5 separate regions of the Homo sapiens genome follow, and regions 2, 3, 4 and 5 are each linked to region 1. Evidence: fine-mapped expression QTL. A gene starts in region 1. Each other region holds a variant in brackets. All regions are shown on one strand. Distances are from middle to middle. Region 1 holds the start of TOP1MT (DNA topoisomerase I mitochondrial). Region 2 has its middle 3.6 kb from the start of ZNF696. Region 3 overlaps RHPN1 (rhophilin Rho GTPase binding protein 1). Region 4 has its middle 11 kb from the start of RHPN1-AS1. Region 5 overlaps TOP1MT (DNA topoisomerase I mitochondrial).

Region 1 (5,100 bases):
GGCTATTCTGGGTCCCTTGTATTTCCCTGTGAATTTTAGGATCAGGTTGTCAATTTCTGTAAAAACGCCAGCTGGAATTTAGATGGGGATTGTATTGAGTTTTTGGATCAGTTTGGGGAGTATTGCCGTCTTTTTTTTTGAGACGGAGTCTTGCTCTGTTGCCCACGCTGGAGTGTAGTAGCGTGATCTCGGCTCACTGCAAGCTCTGCCTCCTGGGTTCACGCCATTCTCCTGCCTCAGCCTCCCAAATAGCTGGGACTACAGGCGCCTGCTATCATGCCAGGCTAATTTTTTTAGTAGAGACGTTTTAGCCAGGATGGTCTCGATCTGACCTCGTGATCCGCCCGTCTCGGCCTCCCAAAGTGCTGGGATTACAGGCGTGAGCCACTGCACCTGGCCAATGCTGTCTTAACCATATGAAATCATCCAGTCCGTGAACATGGGATGGCTGCTCATTTATTTAGGCTGTCTTTAATTTCTTTGGGCAATGTTTTACAGTTTTCAGAGTATAAGCTTGATACTTCCTTTGTTAAATTTATTGTGCAGTATTTTATTTTTTCATGCTATAATAAATTATTTTCTTAATTTCATTTTCAGTTTGCGTATGGCTACTGGTTAGAAATACAACTGATGTTTGCATATTGATCTTGTACCCTACAATTGTGCTGAATTCATCTATTAGCTCTACTAGTTTTTGTGGATTCTTTTTTAAATTTTATTTTCCATAGAGATAGGGTCTCACTATGTTGCCCAGGCTGGTCTTGAACTCCTTGGCTCAAGTGATCCACTTGCTTTGACCTCCCAAAGTGCTTGGATTACAGGCATGAGCTACGGTGCTCGGCCAATTTTTGTGGATTCTTTGGGATTTTCTATATACAAGATTATGCCACCTGCAAATAGACATAATTTACTTCTTTCTTTCTGATCTGGGTGTCTTATTTCATCTGCTTGCCTGTTTGCTCAGTTAGAGCCTCTGGTACCATGTTGAGAGGCAGTGGTGAGAGTGGACATCCTCGTCTTATTCTTCATTTCAGCAGGAGCGTCCAGTCTTTCTTCTGGCATATGAGGTTAGCTGCGGGGTTTTGTAGATGCTGCTTTTCAGGTTAAGTTTCTTTCTATTCTGTTCTTGAGTGGGTTTTCCATTCTGTTTATCATGAAATGGTGCTGGATTTGTCTGCTGCTTTTTCTGCATCTATTGAGAAATCTTAGGGTTTTTGTCCTGCCACACTCCCTCTTACAAAACCTGAGGAACCAACTGGGCATCGGCTCACACCTGAAATCCCAGCACTTTGGGAGGCCAAGGTACTTGAGCCCAGGAGTTCGAGACCAGCCGGGGCAACATAGGGAGACCCCATCTCTACAAAAAGTAAAAAACAAAAAATCAAAAACCCTTAGAAACCTGAACTGGAAAACACATTGACCTCAGGATTCCGTTGAAGGAATGGTGGGCCTGGGCCAAGGCCCTCTTCTGGTTTGTAGAAAGGGTTACCTGAAAAAATATGCATCACTGTTCCGCAGCCCCTGGGAGGAGGTGGCCCACCTGGAGAGTCAGCTGCTGTGTCCTGGTGTGTGTGTACCTTCAGCTGCTGAGCTGCTCATTCTGAAATGATGGGACACCTACCAGGTCTGCCTGGGCCCTAAGAGCGAGCAATTGCAGCCCTCGGCCTCTGCCCATGGCTTCCAGCAGCTAGATGACATGGACACTGAGTCAGTTGGTGGCAGGGGAGGGTCGCTGAGGGCGTGCGGTGGCAGCCCGGACTCCTTTCCTGCCTGTGTCCACTGCATTCCCCCCAACGGTCACAGTGAAAGTGCGGAATGCATGTGAATTCATCTGCTTCCCACGGTCCTGGTGTCAGGGTTTTACCGGGGAAGACCAAGGCTGCGGTGCTGCCAGAGGTGAGCGGTGTGGCCTGTTGTGGCTCAGGGCCTACCGCCAAGTGCTGATCTAGAGGTTTTGCCCCTTGGCCATGCTCCCCAGTGAAGACACTGGGGTTAAACCCTGGTCAGGGTCAGCAGTCACGCTGGGGACTGAGCGCAGGAAGGAGGCTCCAGCTGTGCCTGGTCTCTGGTCTCCTTGGGAGTGAGAGGCTGGTTGGCAGGGATGATTTCGCAGGACTTCCTGTGACCTTTGTCCAGAGGCACCACCTCTGAGGGGCTGCTGTGGGCTGGACAGCAGGTGCTTCTGCCGGTTTCTGCGTCCTGGAAGTGCTGCTGTTTGTAGGGGATGAGGTAGGGGGCCATCTGAGCCTGTGTGGTCCCTTCTCCAGAGCAGCAGAGCGTGTACTTAGGAAGGACCTGCTAGGTGCCCCTGCCCTCAGAGGCTCTGGGAGAGAGCTGTGTGCAAGCCCTGGGCAGGAGTTCACTGGCCTGGTCGTGTGACCTGTGGGGCATCCTGACAGCCAGCCCTGTGCTGCAGAGGTCAGTGGGACTGGGTTTGGATCTGGGTCCCCGCCCAGCGTGAAGGGGCGCTGGACCACGAAGGCAGGGAAACCAGGGGGAGGCCGGCAGGACAGTCAGTGGTCCTGCTGCCGCAGCCCCGTGCAGGCTTAGACCGCCCAGCCTTGGGATGAGCGCCGCTGGGGGCGGAGGCCGCGCTCGGGGGCGGGGCTGGCCGCTGGGGGCGGGGCGGGGCTGGCCGCTGGGGCGGGGCCCAGCTTGTCGCTCTTTCCCGGAGGCTGGCAGATGCGCGTGGTGCGGCTGCTGCGGCTCCGGGCGGCTCTGACGCTGCTCGGGGAGGTCCCCCGCCGCCCGGCCTCCCGGGGTGTCCCGGGCTCGCGCAGGACGCAGAAGGGCAGTGGAGCCAGGTAAGGTGTCCCAGTGAGCAGGCGGCGAGGGCCCTGAGCACCGGGCTTGGGTAGGTCCAGAAAGGGGAGTGGCAGGCCTCGTGGGACGGCCTTGCCCTGCTTCCGGTTTTCCCAAAAGTCGGGCCAGGAGAGCATGCGTGCCGCGGTGTGACCGGCCCGCCTCCTGCCCGGGGTGTACAGGCCCCCCCATGACGTCGCCCTTGCTTCCCCAGGCACCACCCCACCAACCCTATTTGGGGAAATCTCCCCTCTTTTTTTCCGCTTGTGGTTTCATCATTTGTGTAGCTGTGCCTGGGCCTCAACACTGTAGGGTTTGGTTAGGTACTTTATAAAAAGCTTATGTTGCTGTGCATGGTCTTCTGAGACCCGCTCTTTCCTGGAGTCGGTTCCCGGGTTGTCTCCAGGACCGATTCTGCATGGCGGCGGGCGCTCACTGTCATATCTACATCACCAGGCACAAGCCGCATGGATCCAGTGGCCCTGGTGGCCGTTGGTGGTCCCAGGCGCTTTCCTGGAGGACATGTGAGAAGCCCTGCCGGCGCATACTGGGCCTGGGGTAGCCGCATGGGGATGGGTCTCTGCGCATGAAATGCTGGAGTTTCCGAAGAGCTGGAGAGTTGACAGCCTCACTGGTGCGTGGGAGATCCTGCAGGAGTTCCCGCCAGGTCTCGCGGTTTATCATCATTCACTTAGTGCTTCCAGCGTGGCATGTCTCTGTGACCTGGTGGTGCGCTATCAGCATACCCATTCACAGCTGAGGGCCTGCACAGCTGCCTAAGGCCATGCTGCAGAAATGTCCTGTCTGCCTGCAGGAGCTTGGGACCCAAAGAGAGCCCCAGATGGGGCAGGGTGTCTTGGGAGGAGGGAGTTCTGGCCTGCGCTTGGAGCTGGGGCTGGCTGTGGGCCCTGCATTGAGGCACATCTCTCCGAGGGTGCACAGGCAGGTAGGTGCTTTCCAAAAAGTGCTGCTGAGCTGCAGTCGCCCAGGTGGACAGGTGGGTTTGGAGCAAGGTCTCTGGCTTTGAAAGCCAGCTTGTGTCTGATGGTGGTGCTTGGTGCCCTGGTCTCTGCAGGGGTGAAAGAATGTCACTACAATGTGCAGCCCTCAGTTGGGCTTGAGCGCACACCCAGTGGTGCAGCCCTGCCTGGCCGCTGGCCGGCAGGTTGTTTCACCTCAGTGTCTTCATCTGTGAAATGAGACTGGTGATGTGACTACCCTAGAGGCTTTGTGAAGGACTTGGCAGTCAGGGTCACTGTCAGTTCTTTATTTTTATTTTTATTATTATTATTTGAGACAAAATCTTGCCCTGTCACCCAGGCTGGAGTGCAGTGGTGCAATTTCAACTCACTGCAACCTCTGCCTCCTGGGTTCAAGTGATTCTCCTGCTTCAGCCTCCTTGAGTAGCTGGGATTACAGGCACCCGCCACCACGCCTAGCTAATTTTTGTATTTTTAGTAGAGACGGGGGTTTTGCCATGTTGGCCAGGCGGGTCTCGAACTCCTGGCCTCAAGTGATCCGCCCGCCTCGGCCTCCCAAAGTGCTGGTATTACAGGCGTGAGTCACCGCGCCTGGCTCCTATCAGTTAGTTCCGAGATACACGTGGTTTCCCATTTTCTCACACCCGACATGATCCATCTTCCCTTATTCTCTAAGAAGGCGTTGTCTAGGTTTGCATCCTTCAGGGCACTTAGTGGTGCAGCCTCCTACCAGCCCCACCCTAGACATGCTGTATCAGGGCTGGTGGGCTCTCTTGAACTCCTAAAACCTGTAAGAAAGGTGAGGCTGGTCTCACCTGACGTGGAAAAGCTCTGCAGAGTCAGCAGAACCCCCCTCTCCCCGAGTCTCCCTCCAGACTCCAGCTGCCTGCAGCATCTGCCAGCTAGTTTTTTTGTACTTTCGCCATGTTGGCCAGGCTGGCCTTGAGCTCCTGAGCCTGCCTCAGCCTCCCAAAGTGCTGGGATCACAGGCGTGAGCCACCACGCCCGGCTCCACCCTGGAAGGTTCTTGAGCCCGTTAACTTCTCCCTACTTTATCAGCTCCGTCTCTACGTCTTCTAACCTTGCCCATTCCCTCCTCTGCAGAAACAGCCAGAAAGGCCCTTTCAGAAATGTCTGTTGCACATGCTTTCCCCTCTCAGACCCTTCAGAGACTTCCTGTTGCTCTGAGGACACTCATCCCAGCCGACCAGGCCCACCAGGCCCCCAACAGCACTACCTGGCTGGGGTCACGTGCAGGTCTCCTGGCTCTGGCAGGTGGGGGTGTGATCTGGAACCTTCTGTCCTTGTGCGTCTGGGG
Region 2 (5,100 bases), 47 kb after region 1:
ACACTTAGACTGGGTGGGCGAGAGGCTCATGAATGTAATCCCAGCACTTTGGGAGGCCAAGGCAGGAGGATTGTTTGAGTCCAGGAGTTTCAGACCAGCCTGAGCAACATAGTTAGAACCGTGTCGACTAAAAATTTTTTTTAAAAATTAGCCGGGCGTGGTGGCCGGCGCCTGTGGTACCAGCTACTCGGGAGGCTGAGGCGGGGGGACCACTTGAGCTCGGGAGGCGGAGGCTGCAGTGAGCCGAGATTGGCACTGCACTCCAGCCTGGGTGACAGAGATTCTGTCGCAAAACAAAAACAACAACAACAACACACACCACACACACACACATCTAAAAGAGATGATGTAGAAGTACAAGTAACCGTTTCCCTCTGCATCCCAGTGGAACGTCGTGGGTCTTCTGAAGACCCTCTCTTGCCCTGCAGGCTCCGGTACTCCAAGCACGCGAGTCTGCGCAGGAGGCGCTTCGCTCTCCGGAGCTCCCCACTGCCTCCTAGACACAGTCCCGGCTCCTTACCCCGGGCGGAGGCTCTTCCAGACGGGTCCCGACTGCCTCTGTATGCCCACTGCTGCCGTGCCAGAAGCCACTGCCCTCTCCTCGCCCCTTTCCAAATGTGCCCTGCCTCAGGCCCGTGTCATGCTGTTCCCTGTGCCGCTTTCGCCCGTCCCCTCACTCCCCGCCACCAGAACCGGGAAGGCGGTGCCCCCTTTCCAGGCCCAACTTCCGGCACTGAACCTCTAGGAGTCCGCAGCCTCCTCCGCCCGGGCCTCTCCCCGCTGGCTCAGACCGCAGGGCCAGCAGCCCCGCCCACACGGAAGCCCCGCCCATCAGGCCGACCCCGCCCCTCCTGCCTCGGCCCCGCCCTCGCCTTGGCCCCGCCTCCTCGCTGGCAGCCGGCAGGCGCAGTCGGGGTCGTGGGACCCAGGAGGGGCCTCCAGCAGGTGCCTTGGCGAAGATCCTGGACTGCGTCACAGCCCAGGGTAGCCGTCCCGCGGCCCGGCTTTGGAGCTTCCCACGGACACCCGGGGCTCTGCCTCCTCCGAAATCACCCCTCACCGCTTCCCTCCTGCTCTCCCACAATGGGAGGCCACACGCTGGGGCCCCTGAGAAACAGAATCGAAAACACAAGGCAGGACTCCAGGGACATGGGGGTGGGGGAGTGAATCCAAGCAACTCAGGACGCCCGCGAATAGCTCAGATCCTGCGAAGAGCCCGCGCCCTGGAATTCTGTTTGCTAAGGGGGTCCTCACGGTGTAGGGTGAGACAGAGAACCTCTGGGCAGTTGCAGGTGGTAAATGTCCATGATAAAGGGCAAGTTCACAGTCTAGAAAATTCTGGATTTCTTGATCCAAAAGTAGCCGAGTCCAGGCCGGAGAGGTGGCTCACGCCTGTAATCCCAGCACTCTGGGAGGCCAAGACAGGAGGATCACTCGAGGTCAGGAGTTCGAGACCAGCCTGGCCAACATAGTGAAACCCCATCTCCACCAAAAAAAAAATTACAAAAAATTAGCCAGGCATGTTGGTGCTTGCCTTAGTCCCAGCTACTCGGGAGGCTGGGGCAGGAGAATTGCTTGAATCCAGGAGGCGGAGGTTGCAGTAAGATTTCGCCACTGCACTCCACAGTGAGACTCCGTCTCAAAAAAAAAAAAAAAAAAAAAAAAAAAAAAAAAGTAGCTGAGTCTTAGAATACCACCCCTTCAAGGACTGTTTCCATGAGCCTATCCACTGAGTCTCTTACCTGCTACCCTGAAAAAAAAAAGTACGATGAAGAAATTACCAAAGGCACCCCTGAAAAACAAAGACAGCTGGGCCTGGCGCAGTGGCTCACTCCTGTCATCCCAGCACGTTGGGAGGCCGAGGCGGGTGGATCACCTGAGGTCAGGGGTTTGAGACCAGCCTGGCCAACACGGTGAAATTCCATCTCTACTAAAACTACAAAAATTAGCCGGGAGTGGTGGTGTTCGCCTGTAATCCCAGGTACTCGGGAGGCTGAGGCAGGAGAATCACTTGAGCCCGGGAGGTGGAGATTGC[A/G]GTGAGCTGAGATCACGCCATTGCACTCCAGCTTGGGTGACAGAGTGAGACCTGTGGGGAAAAGCAAGAGAGATCAGATTGTTACTGTGTCTGTGTAGAAAGAAGTAGACATAGGAGACACCATTTTGTTCTGTACTAAGAAAAATTCTTCTGCCTTGAGATTCTGTTAATCTATGACCTTACCCCCAACCCCGTGCTCTCTGAAACATGTGCTGTGTCAACTCAGGGTGAAATGGATTAAGGGCTGTGCAGGATGTGCTTTGTTAAACAGATGCTTGAAGGCAGCATGCTCCTTAAGAGTCATCACCACTCCCTAACCTCAAGTACCCAGGGACACAAATACTGCGGAAGGCCGCCGGGTCCTCTGCCTAGGAAAACCAGGTATTGTCCAGGGTTTCTCCCCATGTGACAGTCTGAAATATGGCCTCGTGGGAAGGGAAAGACCTGACCGTCCCCCAGCCTGACACCCGTAAAGGGTCTGTGCTGAGGAGGATTAGTAAAAGAGGAAGGAATGCCTCTTGCAGTTGAGACAAGAGGAAGGCATCTGTCTCCTGCCCGTCCCTGGGCAATGGAATGTCTCGGTATAAAACCCGATTGTACGTTCCATCTACTGAGATAGGGAAAAACCGCCTTAGGGCTGGAGGTGGGACATGCGGGCAGCAATACTGCTTTGTAAAGCATTGAGATGTTTATGTGTATGCATATCTAAAAGCACAGCACTTGATTCTTTACCTTGTCTATGATGCAAAGACCTTTGTTCACGTGTTTGTCTGCTGACCCTCTCCCCACTATTGTCTTGTGACCCTGACACATCCCCCTCTCGGAGAAACACCCACGAATGATCAATAAATACTAAGGGAACTCAGAGGCTGGCAGGATCCTCCATATGCTGAACGCTGGTTCCCTGGGTCCCCTTATTACTTTCTCTATACTTTGTGTCTTTTTCTTTTCCAAGTCTCTCGTTCCACCTAACGAGAAACACCCACAGGTGTGGAGGGGCAACCCACCCCTTCAAGACTCTGTCTCAAAACAAACCAATCAAACCAAACAAAACAAAAACAAACAAACAAAAAAAGACCTCAGAGAAAGAGGACTGTTGTTCAAAGAAGAGGCCGTGGGTCAACTGAAGCAAGTGGACACGCAGCCAGGAAACAGGTGACACAGAAAGGAAGGACTCCCAGTCTCCTGGCAGAAGGAGCAGGGGAGGCAGAGACCTCTGAGTTACCCCTGGAAGCCGAGGGCCTGACCCCCACAGCCGCAGGATGGAAATCCTGCCACGGCCCGAATGGTCAGGGAAGGACCTCAAGCTCCACAGGAGTTCGGAGACCAGGACAGCTTAATGGCAGCTCCAGGAGACCCTGGCAGAGACCTCAGCCAAGCTGTGCCGGGCTCCCGCGTGGCAGGATCTGTGAAGTAACAGACGGGTTTTTGGTGAGCAGGTTCCAGGTGAGACACACCAGTGGCCCTAAGAGGAGAAAATGCAAGGGTGGTAGGAAGTGGCGGGTGCACCAAGACCTAGCGGCCAGCCTGACCAGCACTGACTGGCACCTTGGTGCTGTGCAGTCAAGGAGAACTGGCTCAGGCTCAGGACATTCACTCCTGCTGCGCTGGGCACCAGGGACACCCCCGAAGGTGGACAGAGCACCACGGGGGCTGCCCTGGGAGCTCGCGAAAGAGAAGGGAGAAACACAGGCACAGCAGGCACCGCCTGCCAGGTGCCAGAAAGCAGCGCGTGGAGGCCTCATTAGAAGCAGAGAGCAGGGAGCAGTGACTCAAGCAGCACTGCCAGCGGGTCCTGAAGTGTGGGCAGGAGTTTGGGGAGGGCGCTGAGGTGGGGAGGCCGCTTGGCTCTCAGGGAACCCAGCCTTGTCGCACGGATGCTGGGCTTCCTACTCTGGGGTCCTTGTAGCCACTAGGGTGTTCTAACTCAGAAAAGACACCACAGGTTTGGGATTGGAAAAGGGCTTGAGAAGCACACAACCCCAGCAATAAAAATGGGGTCAGAGCAAACACTCAGAATGGGAAACCACACGCCGGCGCGGACGGGGCCAACAGACACACAGAACCACCCGGAGTGACCTCTAGCACATCGTGTGGAGCAAAAGGAGTGCCAGGAGGGCGGGCAGACGAATCCATTCCTGAGAGGCCCGATGGCAGACAGGGCCCTCCAGAAGCTAGAATACCCATCAGCTGGGGGAGGGGAAGGGAAAGGGAGGAGAAGCTCTGGAAAGTTCCATGCTGTGACCTGGGGGGATTAGCAAGAGTGTAAACATGTAAACAGTCAAGCCGAGTGCTTAAAATTTGGGCATTTTCGCTATGTAAATTATACCCTAATTCAAAAAAATCAAGAACACCATATCCCAGGAAAACTTAATATAAAATATTGACACCAGCACGGATCTTGGTGAAGCTATTCAAGGTTATGGATGAGGAAAGAATGACCAAGGCATCCAGGCAGAAGAGGAGCGTTTCAGAGAAAGGGCAGAGGCCAAGGGCTTCCCAGTGGTGCAGGCTCAGCACAGTCCTGCAAGGAAAAACCTAAAACCCAACCACATGCCCCAAGCCCTTGCTATTCGCCATGCCCTCCGTCGAGTGTAATGGCTACAGAGGGCATTCTAGAGCTTTCAGGAGCTCAGCATGCAGCCCCTCTTGCCTGCCCCCGTGGAGCCCTCTCCCCAGATGGGAGCTGGGCTCAGGGTCCTGCTGGATGGGCACATGGACCGAGGTCCTGGGAAGCCGCCTGCTCCCACTTGCATCCTGCCTGTTACTCTCGTCACCCAGACGCTGTTCACCCAGGCTCTGCAGCAGGCGCTGGGCTGGATGGTCTACCGTGTAAACGAGGGGATTTCCCATCCCACGGGCTGCTTGAGGAGCAGCAGCCTCACAGAATGGCCATGCACAGAGTGCAGGGCGGCAGGACGGGAAGGCCCTGCCTGGAGTCAGGCACACGAGTGCCACAGTAGTGGCATGATTTTGCCCACCTGAGACTCAAGGACTGGGACACCTGTCCCTCCTCCTCCACCCACGCTGCGGGGAACTGCATGGCTCCTCCGGGCGGGGACCAT
Region 3 (5,100 bases), 38 kb before region 1:
ATGTGGGTTTAGGCGTGGGCTCAAAGGACAGGGTCCCTGAGGCTCTGGGGGCGGCCACTGGCCCCCGATGGTTGGTGCAGAGGCTGCGGTCTGACTTTGGGAATGGTTCTCGAAGCGAACGCACACCCGTGCCCTCCCTATCCACAGAGAAATGACTCTGAGCCTTGCACCCAGACTGCAGCCCCGCGGCCCTGCCCAGCACCAGCCATGGCGAAAGAGTGGGGCGTGCCCAGCGGGGCCCCTTCTGGACTTTGATGGCTCCTGTGTCGTCAGTGGTGCCAGCGTGCTGGAGCTTACATTTCACTCTAGGGAGATCCAGTTTCATGCCTCAGCCCACCCCACCCTTGTGGTGTTGGGGTCCTGCCCACATGATCCTCACGTGTCCCTCCCTCTCACCATGGCCTCCCAACCCCCACTCTTCCCCGTGGCCATGTGGGAATGCCTGGGTCTCCACCCGGACAAGATTATTTGCAGCTACCTGTGGCTGTCCCCTGGGTGGGCTCCCAGGCGTGGGCTGGCTGGCTTGCCTCTCCAGCACCCACTCCTTCCATGCTTTGAGACCCACAGTGCTGCTCAGGGCTCACTGCTCAGGGACACTGACTCCCACCCAGCCCTGGGGCGAGCCTGGTCTGAGTCAGGCGTGGCCAACCTGGCCATTTCTGCCAGTCAGCAGCAAGACAAGGCCTCTGGTGGCTCCTGGGACTGCTTCCCGCCCTTGTCGGGAGACAGGACCTCTTCTTCCCCAGGACCTTGTGGCGTCTGAAGGTGAATCTTGCCACCATGAAACTGACCTACCACTGCATGAAGCTGCGGATTCATGGGGCCAACGTGCACACGCACTGGGTCTTCCCCTCTGTGGACCCGACACCCTCTCCACGCACACACGTCTCTCAGGCCTTCCCGTCTTCCCCGTAAAGAGCTCACACGTGTTTTCCTGGGTTTTCTCCTAGATATCTGGAGAGAGTTCTTTTTGCTAATGTGAACGAGATCTTTGTGTGCATTTTAATTAGTTTATTCCCATTATACAAGAAAGGTTTGATTTCCTAGACAGAAGGCCTGCTCGTCCAGCCCCCCAAAATCACAGCAGCCAGCTGAGCGGGTGACCATCTATTATGGGTGAATTGTGTCCCCACAAAAGACAGGTTCAAGTCCTGACTCCCAGTACCTGTGACTGCAATTTTTCTAGAAATAGGGTCTTTGCAGATATAATGAGTTAAGATGAGGCCACCCTGGAGTAGGGGGTCCTTAATCGCAGTGACAAGGGTCCTTATACGAGGTGGGGAATTTGAACACAGTCACATGGAGGTGGCCATGGGAAGGCAGAGACAGAGACTGGAGGATGAGGCACCGTCCCCTGGAACCCACGCCATCCCCCAAATCCCCGCCCCGTCCCCTGGAACCCGCGCCATCCCCAAACCCCCACACCGTCCCCTGGAACCCACACCATCCCCCAAATCCCCGCCCCGTCCCCTGGAACCCGCGCCATCCCCAAACCCCCACACCGTCCCCTGGAACCCACGCCATCCCCCAAATCCCCGCCCCGTCCCCTGGAACCCACACCATCCCCCAAGCCCCCGCCCCGTCCCCTGGAACCCGCGCCATCCCCAAACCCCCACACCGTCCCCTGGAACCCGCGCCATCCCCAAACCCCCACACCGTCCCCTGGAACCCACGCCATCCCCAAACCCCCACACCGTCCCCTGGAACCCACACCATCCCCCAAGCCCCCGCCCCGTCCCCTGGAACCCGCGCCATCCCCAAACCCCCACACCGTCCCCTGGAACCCACGCCATCCCCAAACCCCCACACCATCCCCTGGAACCCGCGCCATCCCCAAACCCCCACACCGTCCCCTGGAACCCACACCATCCCCCAAGCCCCCGCACCATCCCCTGGAACCCACGCCATCCCCCAAGCCCCTGCACCATCCCCTGGAACCCACGCCATCCCCAAACCCCCACACCGTCCCCTGGAACCCACACCATCCCCCAAGCCCCCGCACCGTCCCCTGGAACCCACGCCATCCCCAAACCCCCGCACCGTCCCCTGGAACCCACGCCATCCCCAAACCCCCACACCATCCCCTGGAACCCGCGCCATCCCCAAACCCCCACACCGTCCCCTGGAACCCGCGCCATCCCCAAACCCCCACACCGTCCCCTGGAACCCACACCATCCCCCAAGCCCCTGCACCATCCCCTGGAACCCACGCCATCCCCCAAACCCCCGCATTGTCCCCCAGACACCTGTGCCATCCCCCAAACCCCTGCGCCATCTGCTGGACACCCACGCCATCCCCCAGACACCTGTACCATCCCCCAAACCCCTGTACTGTCTGCTGGACACCCGCACCATCCCCTGGACACCCAGGCCGGCAGCCTCCTGCTGAGTGCTGGGGTGAGGGAGCCTGACGGAGGTCCCTGAACTGAAGATGAGTTGGCGCTTAGGGGCCGGAGGGAGGGACACAGGCGGCCGGA[G/A]GGATGGACACAGGCAGCTGGAGGGAGGGACACAGGCAGCCGGAAGGAGGGTGTGCCGGCCCAGGACCCTGGCCTCCCCCAGCCCAGCCCTGCCCCCGTGGACACCACCCAGCAGCGGACGGGCCGATGTGCACTTGGGAACCCTCACCCTGCTCCCGTTTCTCACTCCCGCCTCCTCCAGAAAAGAAATTCCCTCCAGAGCTGCTTCAGGGACTCGGGCTGGAGAGGCCCACAGGTGGGAGAGGGGCATGGGCGCCTCAGATCTGAGAAGCTCCCTGAACCTGAGGCCCGCCCACCCCCGCCTCCCATCCCTACCTTTCCCACCGGCGCTACCACCTCGAGGGCCTCTGCCCAGTACCTAGGAGACCCCCGTGCCACCCACCGCAGCTACACCCCCTCCCCGCAAAGGCCCCGCTGCAAGGCTCCAGCAGCTTTAAGGGCTCTGGCTGTGCGACGGGCATCAGACACCCAGCCAGGTCCCTGCTCCCCTCCTGGCCCCAGGAGAGCTGCGGGGAGCCTGGCCCCTTGGAGCCCCACAGGCACCTGCTGTGGGCCTGGTCCATTCCTCGGCCTCCCTACCCGCAGTGCTCCCTGCAGGCCAAGTGACTTCCCGGCCTACAGGCGGAGGAGCAGACCCGAGCCGGACCTTTGAGGCTGGGTAGACCTTGGAGGTGGGCGGCCCATGCCCCACTTTCCACACTGGGTTGAAGGTTGAGCCCAGTGGAAGGGGCATAGACACAGGCGTTCAGGCCCCTACTCCTGCTACAACCTCCCCACCCTCTGGAGACAAAGGTGACCTGGAGCTCCCCACCCCCACGTCCACGGTGCCCTGACACCCCACTGTGGCCATTTCCGCCTTGCATTAGGAAAGGACAGAGAGGCTGTGGTCTGTGGGGGTCCCGAGAGGCAGCCACACATGAAGGGCCTGGCCATGCCTCGATGGAGAGGGACGAAGAACAGAGAAACAGCCCCCCAACCCTGACACTGGGGCTCCTCTGCCCAGGAGGAAACAGTGTGGCCCTGGCCAGAGTGGGGCTGACCTGGGGACGGGCAAAAGGCAGAGATAGTTATCCCAGCCCAGGTCTGGGAACAGCAAAACATCAGAGCAGGGCCAGACCTCCACTCTCCCCCAGGATCCCCTGGCCCTGGGCCAGGCAGTCCCCAGGGAGAGGTCACCCACCTGGAGCAAACCAGCTTTTTCCCTTCAGAGCCCTGGCCCTGGGCACCCTGTATGCTGACAGCCACCCATCTCAGGTACCCCTCTCCTCTGCCCCCACTGAAGTCTCACCTGAATGCAAGAACTGGAAGCCCCAGGAGGGTGGAAGCCCAGCACCCACCTGACCCACCATCTCTGCCCCCCACTGATGAGGGAACAGAATTCAAAGGGCATTGCTGCACAGGTGTCTCCTGGGACACAGGGCTATAAGCAGCACGCACGCCAGAGGAATCATAGACTGGCCACTCACGGCAGGGACTCCCACTCTCTCTGATGCTCCCTGGGGTACCCAGGCACTGGTGCTTCCTGAGCACCCCTCTTCCTGGAGCCCAATCTACCTGGGCAGGGGCCTGGGAACCTGTAACCAGCACCCAGAGGGTGCTCCTGTCCAGCCAGGCTGGGGAACCTCAGGCTGACCCACTCGGCATGCTGGAGACCAGGTGAGGGGGGCACAGCCACCCTGCCCACCTGCTGCTCCAACGCTCTCCCTCTGCAGCCTGCTCCCCCTTCTCCCACTGGCCTCCCCAGGAAACCACAGAACCTTCTGCATACAGCCAGGCTGTATTCCTTGTGGTCCTCCCCCGGGAGCCCCTGCAGCCCCTGCGGGAGGGACGGCAGCTGGGTTGGCCACCCTGGGCCGTGCCAGGCTTCTCCCCTTCCCAGCTTGGCAGCCTTGGCCACTTACTCACCCTGTTCATCAGACGGGCTGAGGCCCAGGGCTTGGGAGGCACCAATGGCAGGACTCCAGCTGTAGCACTGGCCCTGGCACCAGGTAAGCGCTTGCTGGAAGCCTGCTCTCATCACGCCTGGGGCAAATACAAGTCACCCAGACCTGTCCACAGGGCCTCAGGCCCAGGTGTGGCCTCTAAGTGGATGAACGACCGACCCCTGACCCACTGAACTCTGAGCTTTAGGGCCAGTTTGGGGGCCAGCCTGATGGGGGTGGAACAGGCCTCACTCTAGCCCGGCAGCAGGCATCGGGGAAGACTTTCCAGATGGCAGGACAGCCTGAGTGGTGCGCGTGTGACACAGGGCCTGCCTCCGCCCCACTGCCACCTCCCACGGGCCCCTCCCCAGTACCCTGACTGTGGGGTCATTTCTGGACGCTGTGAGAGACACGGCAGCCTGGAAACAGCTTCTCCCCAACTTTCCAAGGTGGCAGCCCAGGGAGGGCCAGGACAGGGAGCCCAGGCACAGCCCCCAGCCTGAAAAGCGTCACCTCCGGAGCCCTCTGGGACATCTTGTTTGTACAGCCTCCCAAACATTCCACCCAAAACAACATGTGCCGTCCCAGGCCACCTGCAGGCATGGCCGCCCTGACAGAGCAAGTTCATAGGGGGCAGGCACAGGCTGCCTCTTTCCCTCCAGTGCCCAGGAGGTGCTGCAGCCTCTGGCACGCCTCGGGGT
Region 4 (5,100 bases), 23 kb before region 1:
GGCCTTCGTCCATTCTGCTACCGCGGCCACATCCGCTCAATTTTCCAGACTCAGCCTCTGGGATCTCACGTCACCCCAGACTCACGGACCCCGACATGGCGCATCCTGCACCCCACGGGTGTGGCCTGGCGGCCCTCCTCCTCCCAAGCACTATGTTCAGGCTGAGTGGAGACTCTCGCTAGCAATGTGCAGGCTGCTAAGCAGATGCGACCCGGTGACAGCTTGCACCTCAGGCCTTGCTCCTTGAGCTCCTTGCTCCATGAGCTTTTCTCAAAATACGATCCTCTTTATCTTCAGAGTCGCAGAAGCGCTGCAGGGACTGGCGAGACTCCACCACGTCGCGGAAGCCAACAGCACGTCGGCCCAGGAACGCCCCTCCACCCCGGCCGGCCGCCTCCCACCCCACCTCCTGGGTGCCCGTCAGCACCGCGGCCCACGGAGCGCGCGAGCCCAGGGGCCCAACCGAGCGCAGCCACCGGACGCCCCGCGTGGCCACCGCGTGGGCCTCTCCCGCGCCTGCGCAGCCCGCCCCCTTCCCGGCAGCACCGGCGGCGTCAAGGCAGGCACGTGGCGGCGGCTGCGCATGCGCGGGCTCGGGCCTTCCCGGCGTCTCCGCGCAGGCCTCGGGGAAGCGGGGTCCGGGGGAGCCGTGGTGCGGTGGGACCGCGTGGGTCCTGGAAGAGCTGCAGAGGAGGTGGGACTCGGCCTGAGGGCGCAGGGCCACCAGGAGGGAGGGGTCAGGCGGGGCCCTCAGTGGCCCTCTTCCTGTGGGTGACCCAGGTCGCGCTGTTGGTGACGACCTCCCACATCCCTCGCCTCTCCGCGACTCCTCCGTGTACCTCCCCCTCCGCGCACGACGCCACCAACGTGTCCCCTCCTCCTCTGTGTCCCCCCTCCGTGTGCTTCACCCCTCAGTGTTTCCTCCATCTCCATGGGCCCTCCTTTTGTGTCCCCCCTCCAGGCCCCCTTGTTCTCTTCCCCCTTCGCTTACCCCTCCCGCTCGGTGTCCTCTCCCCTGGCTGCCCCACCCCTCCTCATCGCTCCCTTGGCTCCTGACTTTCTGCTTGGGCCCTGCACCTGGCCAGCGGTGCCGGTCTGGCTGCCTAGGAAAAGGGTCTGGAAACGGCCGTCGCTGATGGGATTCCGCTCTGTCTTCTGCCCCAGAGTGACGGCTTTGGATGCGCTTTGCCCCAGGGCCTTTCTTCCCGGAGTTGGCCTTTTCCCTGCCCTTCTCTTCTCCTGGCGTGGTGACCTGCCTCCCTTCTCCTGGATCGCTTTGCTGGCAGCCACCTTGTAACACCTCAGGTTTGCAGCTGTTTTTTTTTCTTTTGGTCTGGCGCATCTAAAGCCATAAGCTCCCAGCTAAAACCCAAGAACAGGCTATTTTCAGGGGAGTCTCTATGCAGCATTCAAAATAGTCTACTTAAGGGCCGGTGCGGTGGCTCACACCTATAATCCCAGCGCTTTGGGAGACTGAGGCAGGAGGATCGTTTGAGCTCAGGGTTTGAGACCAGCCTGGGCAACATAGTGAGACCCTGTCTCTAAAAAAAAAACCAAAAAACAGAAAACAAAAAAAACGCTTTACTTAATAGTGATTTAAAAAACATGAACATGATGGCATATCACACCCAGGAATATGCTCCAGACCGGCTAATGGAAACTTTCTAGTGAGCCTGGTTGCGTAGTAATGGGGTCAGGAATAAGCACCATCCTTTGGTGGTTGGAGCCAACAGAGGCTCGTGGCCGGTTGCCTCTCCTGCCCTCTCAGCTGCTGCTGTGTTTTCGGTGTCACTCCAGCCGCAGGTGCAGCAGTGTCCCTGCTGCCTGGGTCCAGGCTCACCTCTGTGGAACGGTCCTGCTGCTCACCCCAGGGCCCTGGAGATGTGTGTGTTTTCTTGCAGGTGGGGACACTCAGTTGCAGATAGGTGATGGGAGACAGTCGGGGCCCAATTTGAAGCAGTTGCCAGTGGATGATAAAGTTGCTCTCAAGAGGTAGCAAATACTTTTGGGAAGCAGTGGCCTTTGCATGTTTATGATGATGGATTTTGTTGCTGGGGGTGCTTCACCTGCTTGCCCAGCTCTTGTAACATTCGGGTCTAACCTCATCACTACAATGGTAGAGA[A/G]TGGGGTGGAAGGAGCTGTCTGGGCTGTAGGTCCTGTCTGAACCACAGCCCAGGATCAGAACAGGGGAGGAATGGGAGGGGCGTGATGTCACTGCTTTCCTGTGAAGTTTATGTTTCTTCCTGTCAAAAACATCATTTTGGCACTGGTGTTGCCGTTTCTTCTTTGGAGTTACAGGAGCGTATTTCTTTGATTAAAGGAAGAGAGAGAGTACTGGGCAGATAAGGCTGGAAAATGCAAAGAAGCTCAAAGTGAAGAAGCCAAAGCATAAAAATCAGGGAAGACAGGGCGAAGACCAGGTTCCAGCCTTTTATTTACTGTGAATGTTTCATTTTTATTTATTTATATTATTACTTTTGTGTAGAGACAGAGTCTTGCTGTGTCACCCAGGTGGGAGTGCAGTGGTGATCATAGTTTACTATAACCTCAAACCCTTGGGCCCAAGTGATCCTCCGCCTCAGCCTCTCCAGTAGCTGGGACCACAGGCGTGTGCTACCATGCCCAGCTAATTTTTTTTTTTTTTTTTGAGACGGAGTTTCGCTCCTGTCACCCAGGCTGGAGTGCAATGGTGCAATCTTGGCTCACTGCAACCTCTGCCTCCCAGTTTCTAGCGATTCTCCTGCCTCAGCCTCCTGAGTAGCTGAGACTACAGTCGTGTGCCACCACACCCAGCTAATTTTGTATTTTTAGTAGATACGTGATTTCACCATGTTGGCCAGGCTGGTCTAGAACTCCTGACCTCAGGTGATCCGCCTGCTTCAGCCTCCTAAAGTGCTGGGATTACAGGCGTGAGCCACCGCACTTGGCCTAATGTTTTTATTTTTATTTTTGTAGAAACAAGGCCTGACTATGTTGCTCTGACTGATCTTGGACTCCTTGCCCCAAGCAGTCCCTGCCTCAGCCTCCCAAAGTGCTGGGATTACAGATGTGAATCACCACACCTGGCCTTAATGTTTCATTTTTAAACTCACAATCTTCAACATGTTCAATATGTTGTATTCTTAATTTTTGTTTTTACTCTCGAACTTTTTTTTTTTTTTTTGAGACAAGGTCTCACTCTGTCGCCCAGGAGTGCAGTGGTGATCATAGCTAACTGCAGCCTCAACCTCTTGGGCCCAAGTGATCCTCCCACCTCAGCCTCCTGAGTAGCTGGACTACTGGTGTGCACTATTGTGCTGGCTAATTCTTCTTTTTAATTTTTGTAGAGATGGGATCTCCCTATCTCCCTATGTTGCCCAGCCTAGTCTAGAACGCCTAGGCTCAAGAGATCCTCCTGCCTCAGCCTCCCAAAGTACTGGGATTACAAGTGTAAGCCACTGTGCTCAGCCTCATGAAGCTTTTTTTTTTTTTTTTTGAGATGGAGTCTCACTCTGTCGCCCAGGCTGGAGTGCAGTGGCACTATCTTGGCTCACTGCAAGCTCTGCCTCTCGGGTTCATACCATTCTCCTGCCTCAGCCTCCCGAGTAGCTAGGACTAAAGGCGCCCGCCACCACACCCATCTAATTTTTTCTATTTTTTAGTAGAGATGGAGTTTCACTGTGTTAGCCAGGATGGTCTTGATCTCCTGACCTTGTGATCCACCCTCCTCGGCCTCCCAAAGTGCTGGGATTACAGGCGTGAGCCACTGCATGTGGTCTTTTTTTTTTTTTTTTTTTTTTTTTTGAGACAGAGTCTCACTCTGTTGCCCAGGCTGGAGTTCAGTGGCGCGATCTCAGCTCACCACAACTTCTGCCTCCTGGGTTCAATCTATTCTCCTGCCTCAGCCTCCTGAGTAGCTGGGACTACAGGTGCATACCACCATGACTGGCTAATTTTAGTATTTTTAGTAGAGACGGGGTTTCACTATGTTGGCCAGGCTGGTCTCAAACTCCTGACCTTGTGATCCGCCCGCCTCAGCCTCCCGTAGTGCTGGGATTACAGGCGTGAGCCACTGCACCTGGATGAACCTTTTTGAAATGAGTATTTTACAAGTATAAAAAGCTTTTTTGATCATTTACTTAGATAAATTTAAAAATATGTACTTTGTGTTCACACAAGGTGCATTTATGTCAAATTTCAGAAGGGTTGGATCTGCTGCCAGCATGCTGCCTGGGTCGTGTGTAGGGTGTAGAAGGAGCTGGAGTTAGGTGTGGGGACTGCACGCTTGTCCATCCTGGGAGGGTTGGTTACTGGTTACCTGGAATCCTTTGACGGCTGCTGCCAGGCTTTGGTTGAACTGTAATGGCAAGCAGCCGTGGGCCGGGGAGTGAGTGGCCTGGGCCTGGCCGGCCCCATTCTCAGAGTTGTGTCTGTCTGCCCGCTGGCCACATGCAGGATGCTGTGGTGGGGTTCATCCTAGTGTTTTCACAGAAGTTCTGTTTATTATGACATGGAAATGTCCTCAACGTAACCCTGTTCTCTTGTGACTTATAGCAGTGCTTGAGGGAAGAAAATAAATTCTCCGTTTCAAAAGAAAATCCAGGGCGGGACAATCTTACTGTTGGGTAAGGTTTGTTCCCTTTATCCCTCTTCTAAGAGTGAGGTGAAATGGGGCAGTGAGGGAATGGGGGGAGCGAGGGCACAGGGTGAGATCAGCTTTCGTCCTGAGAGCCTGGCCTTTGCAGTGGAATTGGGACCTGCCTCGTGTTCTTTTTCCAGTCTTTGTTTCCGCTTGAGCGGAGTTAGGAATCCACAGGACTGTGGAGCAGGTTCGTAATGCGAGCCGCCTCTGACAGGTGCAGAGGTCCGGCTCTTGCACATTCGTGTCGGGGGCCCAGATGTAACAAGGGGGTCTGGCATCTCCCTCATGTGCCAGGGGCCCTTTCTGTTTGTTTTTGTTTTAGATAAATCATCTTGTCAGATTGTTACTGTGGTTAACAACCAGTGTGACCACATCTTTTTCAAAGATTAGAACCAAAAAAAAGTTGAAAGGCATTAGGCCTGCAGTCCTCACTCACCTTTCTCTCCCTCTGCTCTCTTCTCTCCTGCTTTCTTGTGTCA
Region 5 (5,100 bases), 22 kb after region 1:
ATCACGTGGGTCACATGTCCACTGGACACGGGGCCCTTCCCTGTTTGGCAGCCGAGGCAGAGAGAGAGAGAACAGTTTACGCCATTATTTCTGCATATCAGAGACTTTTAGTACTTTCACTAATTTTCTACTGCTATCTAGAAGGCAGAGCCAGGTGTACAGGATGGAACATGAAGGCAGACTAGGAGCATGACCACTGAAGCACAGCATCACAGGGAGACGGTTAGGCCTCCGGATAACTGCGGGCGAGCCTGACTGATGTCAGGCCCTCCACAAGAGGTGGAGGAGTAGAGTCTTCTCTAAACTCCCCTGGGGAAAGGGAGACTCCCTTTCCCGGTCTGCTAAGTGGCAGGTGTTTTTCCTTGACACTGATGCTACCGCTAGACCATGGTTGGCCTGGCAATAGGCATCTTCCCAGACGCTGGCGTTACCGCTAGACCAAGGAGCCCTCTGGTGGCCCTGTCTGGGCATAACAGAAGGCTCGCACTCTTGTCTTCTGGTTACTCCTCACTATGTCCCCTCATATCTCTGTATGGCCTGGTTTTTCCTAGGCTATGATTGTAGAGCGAGGATTATTATAATATTGGAAAAAAGAGTAATTGCTACCAACTAATGATTAATGATATTCATATATAATCATATCTATGATCTATATATAGTATAACTATTCTTATGTATTTTATTATACTGGAACAGCTCGTGCCCTCAGTCTCTTGCCTCAGCACCTAGGTAGCTGCCGCCCACACCAACCCAGATGTGGCAGCTTCAGACGCGCCTTCCCATGGCCAGTTTTGTTTTCCTCTTCAATTGTTATTTTGTGATTTTTTTTTTTTTTTTTTTGAGATGGAGTCTCTGTCGCCAGGCTGGAGTGCGCTGGCGCGGTCTCAGCTCACTGCAACCTCCGCCTCCCGGGTTCAAGTGATTCTCCTGCCTCAGCCTCCCGAGTAGCTGGGGTTACAGGTGCGCGCCACCACGCCCGGCTCATTTATTTATTTAGTAGAAACGGGGTTTCTCCATGTTGGCCAGGCTGGTCAAACTCCTGGCCTCAAGTGATCCTCCTGCCTTGGCATCTCAAAGTGCTGGGATTACAGGCATGAGCCACTGCACCTGGCCAACTTTGTGATTTTTAAAAATACAAACTATATGCCTTGTGGACAAGAGTGGGACACATGGAGCCGTGGGAGGAGGAGACCCTGGCCGCCAAGGAGGTTTGTGATTGTCATTGTGGGGTCAGGAAATGAGAAGAAGGTGCCAGACTCTTCTCCAGGGCGGCGGCACCATCCCCTCCCCACCAGCAGTGTGTGAGGGCTCCGATTCCTCTGTCCAGGCGCCACTGTAGGGTCAGTTTTCCATGTGTCGATTAGAGCCCAGTGGGTGTGAAGGAGCGTCTGGCCGTGGGTGCTCTTTGCAGGTGCTTGTTGCCCACTTCTGTATCGTCTCTGGAGAATGACTGCTCAGGTCCTCTGTCCATTTTCCAGTCGGGTTGTTGTTTTATTATTGACTTGTAAGAGCTCGTCGATGTTTCGCCCACTCTTGGGTTGTCTTTGTTCTTTCTTTTTTTTTTTTTTCCTTTGGAGACAGAGCATTGCTCTGTCGCCAAGGCTGGAGTGCAATGGCATGATCTCGGCTCACTGCAATCTCTGCCTCCAGGTTTCAAGCAATTCTCCTGCCTCAGCCTCCTGAGTAGCTGGGATTACAGGCACCCGCCACCATGCCCGGCTAATTTTTTTGTATTTTAGTAGAGACGGGGTTTCACCATGTTGCCCAGGCTGGTCTTGAACTCCTGAGCTCAGGCAATCTGCCTGTCTCGGCCTCCCAAAGTGCTGGGATTACAGGTGTGAGTCACTACTCCCAGCCCTATTTTTTTTTTTTTTTTTTGGTGATGGAGTCTTGCTCTGTCACCCAGGCTAGAGTGCAGTGGCGTGATCTTGGCTTACTGCAACCTCTGCCTCCTGGGTTCAAGCGATTCTCCTGCCTCAGCCTCCCGAGTAGCTGAGACTACAGACACACACCACTATACCTGGCTAATTTTTGTATTTTAGTACAGATGGGGTTTCACCATGTCGGTCAGGCTGGTCTTGAACTCCTGACCTCGGGTGATCCACCCACCTCGGCCTCCCAAAGTGCTGGGATTACAGGTGTGAGCAACTGCGCCCGGCCACATCTTTCTTCTTTCTTGTTGGTGTCCTGTGACACATTTAAGATTTGGATGAGTCAGCGTGCTGAGAAGGCTTTGCCTAACCCAAGGCCATGAAGATAGATTTCTCTGTTTTCTCCTAAGAGGTTTATTGGTTTACTCTTACATTTAGGTCATTGGTTCTGAGTTAATTTTTGTGTGTGGTCTGAGGGAAGGGCCCAGGGTCATTCTCTTGCATGTGGACAGCCAGATGTCTCAGCATCCTAGCTCACCATAGTCTCAACTTGCTGGGCTCAAGCAATCCTCCCGCCTCAGCCTCCTGAGTAGCTGGGACCACAGGTGCCAACGGCCACAACTGGCTAATTTTTACACTAAGAAAATTTTTGTATGTTGCCCAAGCTACTCTTGAACTCCTGGCTTTAAGCAATCCTGCCTTGGCCTCCCAGAGCTCTGAGATTAAAAGTATGAGCCAAC[A/G]TGCCTGGCCCTTAGGACTGTATCTATAAAGGCCATATTGTATGCAAACAGAGATAGTTTTACTTTTTCTTTTCCAATCATATGCCTTTTATTTCATATTTTTGCATTATGGACCTGGCAGGAATCTCCAGTACACTGGACATGAGTGGGCAGCCTTGCCTTGTTCCTGATACTGGGGGCAAAACTCTCATGCTTTTATCATGGAATATGATGTTAACTGTAGGTTTTTCACAGAAGCTGTTTGTTAAGTTAACAAAATTTACTTCTATTCCTAGTTTGTTGAGGTTCTTTTTTTTTTATCATGAAGAGCATTGGATTTTGTCAAATGATTTTCTGCACCTGTTGAGATCTTGTTTTTGTCCCTTCCTTATATTGATAGGATGTATTATACTAATTGATCAGATATGAAACCATCCTTGCATTCCTGGGATAAATCCTACTTGAGCAATTGTGTAATCATTTTTGTCTATTGCTGGATTCAGTTTGCTGATATTTTGTTGAGGTTTTTGCATCTGTATTCATGAGCATGTTAGTCTATAGTTTTCTTATGATGTCATTGATTTTGGTATCAAGGTAATACTGGTAACGAGTTGAATAATATTTAATATAATATCTAATATTTCATGAAAGTTTATGAAAAATTGGTGCCTTTTTAAAGAGAGAGTCTTGCTGTGTTGCTCAGGCTGGTCTTGAACTCCTGGGCTCAAGCAGTCCTCCGAACTCAGCCTCCTGAATAGCTGAGACTATAGGCTTGCACTGCACTGCCTGGCTAGGGTCAGTTTGTTAAATGAATTCACCAGTGAAACCATCTAGGCCTGGGCTTTTCTTTGGGAGACGTTTAAAGTTACTGATATAATCACTTGTTATAGTTCTATTCATATTTTCTATACTTTGTGAGTTGGTTCTGGTAGTTTGTATCTTTCTGGGAATTTGTTTAGTCTAGGGTGTCTAACTGGCTGGTGCCCAGTTATTCATAGTATTCCCATATTATCTTTTTTATTTCTTTAGTGATGTTCCCTCTTTCATTCATTCCTCATTATTGTGGCTGCGGTTCTTTTTTTTTTTTTTTTGACACAGAGTCTCTCACTCTGTTGCCCAGGCTGGAGTGCAGTGGCATGATCTCAGCTCACCACAACCTCTGCCTCCCGGGTTCAAACTATTTTCCTGCCTCAGCCTCCTGAGTAGCTGGGATTACAGGTGCACGGCACCATGCCTGGCTAATTTTTGTATTTTTAGTAGAGACGGAGTTTCACCATGTTAGCCAGGATGGTCTCAATCTCCTGACCTCGTGATCCACCCGCCTCGGCCTCCCACAGTGCTGGGATTACAGGCGTGAGCCACTGCTCCTGGCCTGGCTGTGGTTCTTAAAGGGTAAAAGTTTTCTCTTCAGGATGAGCATCCGGAGATGCAGGGGTCTGTTTTTAATGGTGGCGTGTGCGAAGGAAATGTCAATTGGAACAAAGGGTATTCAGTGAAAAATAAGGCTGTGACTCACCCCTGACCTCCTGTCCCCAGAGGCAGCTGCTGTAAAATTTCTTTAGCATTTCCTGGCCAGGCAAGGTTGCTCATGCCTGTAATCCCAACACTCTGGGCAGCCGAGGCAGGCAGATCACTTGAGGTTGGGAGTTTGAGACCATCATGGCCAACATGGTGAAACCCTGTCTCTGCTAAAAATACAAAAAAAAAAAAAAAAAAAAAAATCATGTGCGTGGTGGCACATGCCTGTAGTCCCAGCTACTCAGGAGGCAGGAGATTCACTTGAACCCGGGAGGCAGAGGTTCCAGTGAGCTGAGATCATGCAACTGCACTCCAGCCTGGGTGACAAAGCAAGACTCCGTCTCAAAAAAAAAAAAAAAAAGCCAAGAGAAATTTCTTAAGCATTTCCAGAAGGACTGTGTGTGCGTGCTGGCTCTTCCTCTGTTTTCCCTCCTTGTTTTCACATAAATAGCAGCCCCTCATGTGTCCCTCGGCCCCTGGGGATGTGGCTCATGCTGGGAAGGCACTTCCCCGGACCTATGCTTCTGGCCCGGCGGGCTGCCCCATTCTCAGCCGTATTTTTGCAGGCGCAAGTTTGTCTTTCCACGCACATTCGAGTGTTTGTGGCACAAATTCCTAGAAGAGTTGGGGTCAGAGGTTGCATGTGTGGGTGATGTTCTGGCATTGGAGGGTGCAAGTAATGTGGAAAGGGCATCTCTGTGCTGAAATTTGCTTTCCCTAAGGAGGCAGGAAGGAGGGCTTAGCGGCTTCCCGGAGGTTAAAGGACATTTGTGTTTGCTTTCTCGGGCCTGGTCTCGCTGCCCTCATCCTGTTTGGGCCGGCCTCAGTCTGTTGTGTCGAGCATCTCACCCTCCTGCGAGTCAGGTCCTGACGGGCTGCTCACCCTCCGCCCACGGCCCTCCTCTGTATCTGACTTGGCAGCTGGGGTGGGGCTGAGCTTCCACCTTTGATCCCGGCTGGTCTTTTGCTGTGATGGATGACTGATGACAATG

What was found. PIP is the estimated chance that this variant, and not a neighbour inherited with it, causes the effect.
Region 2: its variant is fine-mapped to the expression of TOP1MT in hypothalamus (GTEx, PIP 0.97).
Region 3: its variant is fine-mapped to the expression of TOP1MT in whole blood (TOPMed, PIP 0.96).
Region 4: its variant is fine-mapped to the expression of TOP1MT in whole blood (TOPMed, PIP 0.95).
Region 5: its variant is fine-mapped to the expression of TOP1MT in whole blood (TOPMed, PIP above 0.99).

Annotation. Positions count from the first base shown.
Region 1 is chr8:143,332,444-143,337,543 of GRCh38, reverse strand. It overlaps TOP1MT (DNA topoisomerase I mitochondrial), which reads left to right and starts at 2,664. Exons shown (of 14, transcript NM_052963.3): 1 at 2,664-2,804. The coding sequence starts at 2,683. RefSeq lists a silencer at 2,507-2,966 and enhancers at 3,167-3,216, 2,756-3,440.
Region 2 is chr8:143,285,239-143,290,338 of GRCh38, reverse strand. No RefSeq gene overlaps it. Among named protein-coding and RNA genes, the nearest start is that of ZNF696, 3.6 kb to the left of the region's middle. The variant A/G (reference allele first, on the strand shown) is at 2,036.
Region 3 is chr8:143,369,989-143,375,088 of GRCh38, reverse strand. All of the region lies in intron 1 of RHPN1 (rhophilin Rho GTPase binding protein 1), which reads right to left. Among named protein-coding and RNA genes, the nearest start is that of RHPN1, 3.7 kb to the right of the region's middle. RefSeq lists enhancers at 4,145-5,051, 5,052-5,100. The variant G/A (reference allele first, on the strand shown) is at 2,478.
Region 4 is chr8:143,355,469-143,360,568 of GRCh38, reverse strand. It overlaps a transcript of TOP1MT not described here. Among named protein-coding and RNA genes, the nearest start is that of RHPN1-AS1, 11 kb to the left of the region's middle. The variant A/G (reference allele first, on the strand shown) is at 2,124.
Region 5 is chr8:143,310,329-143,315,428 of GRCh38, reverse strand. The region is part of intron 12 of TOP1MT (DNA topoisomerase I mitochondrial); the gene reads left to right. Among named protein-coding and RNA genes, the nearest start is that of ZNF696, 21 kb to the right of the region's middle. The variant A/G (reference allele first, on the strand shown) is at 2,612.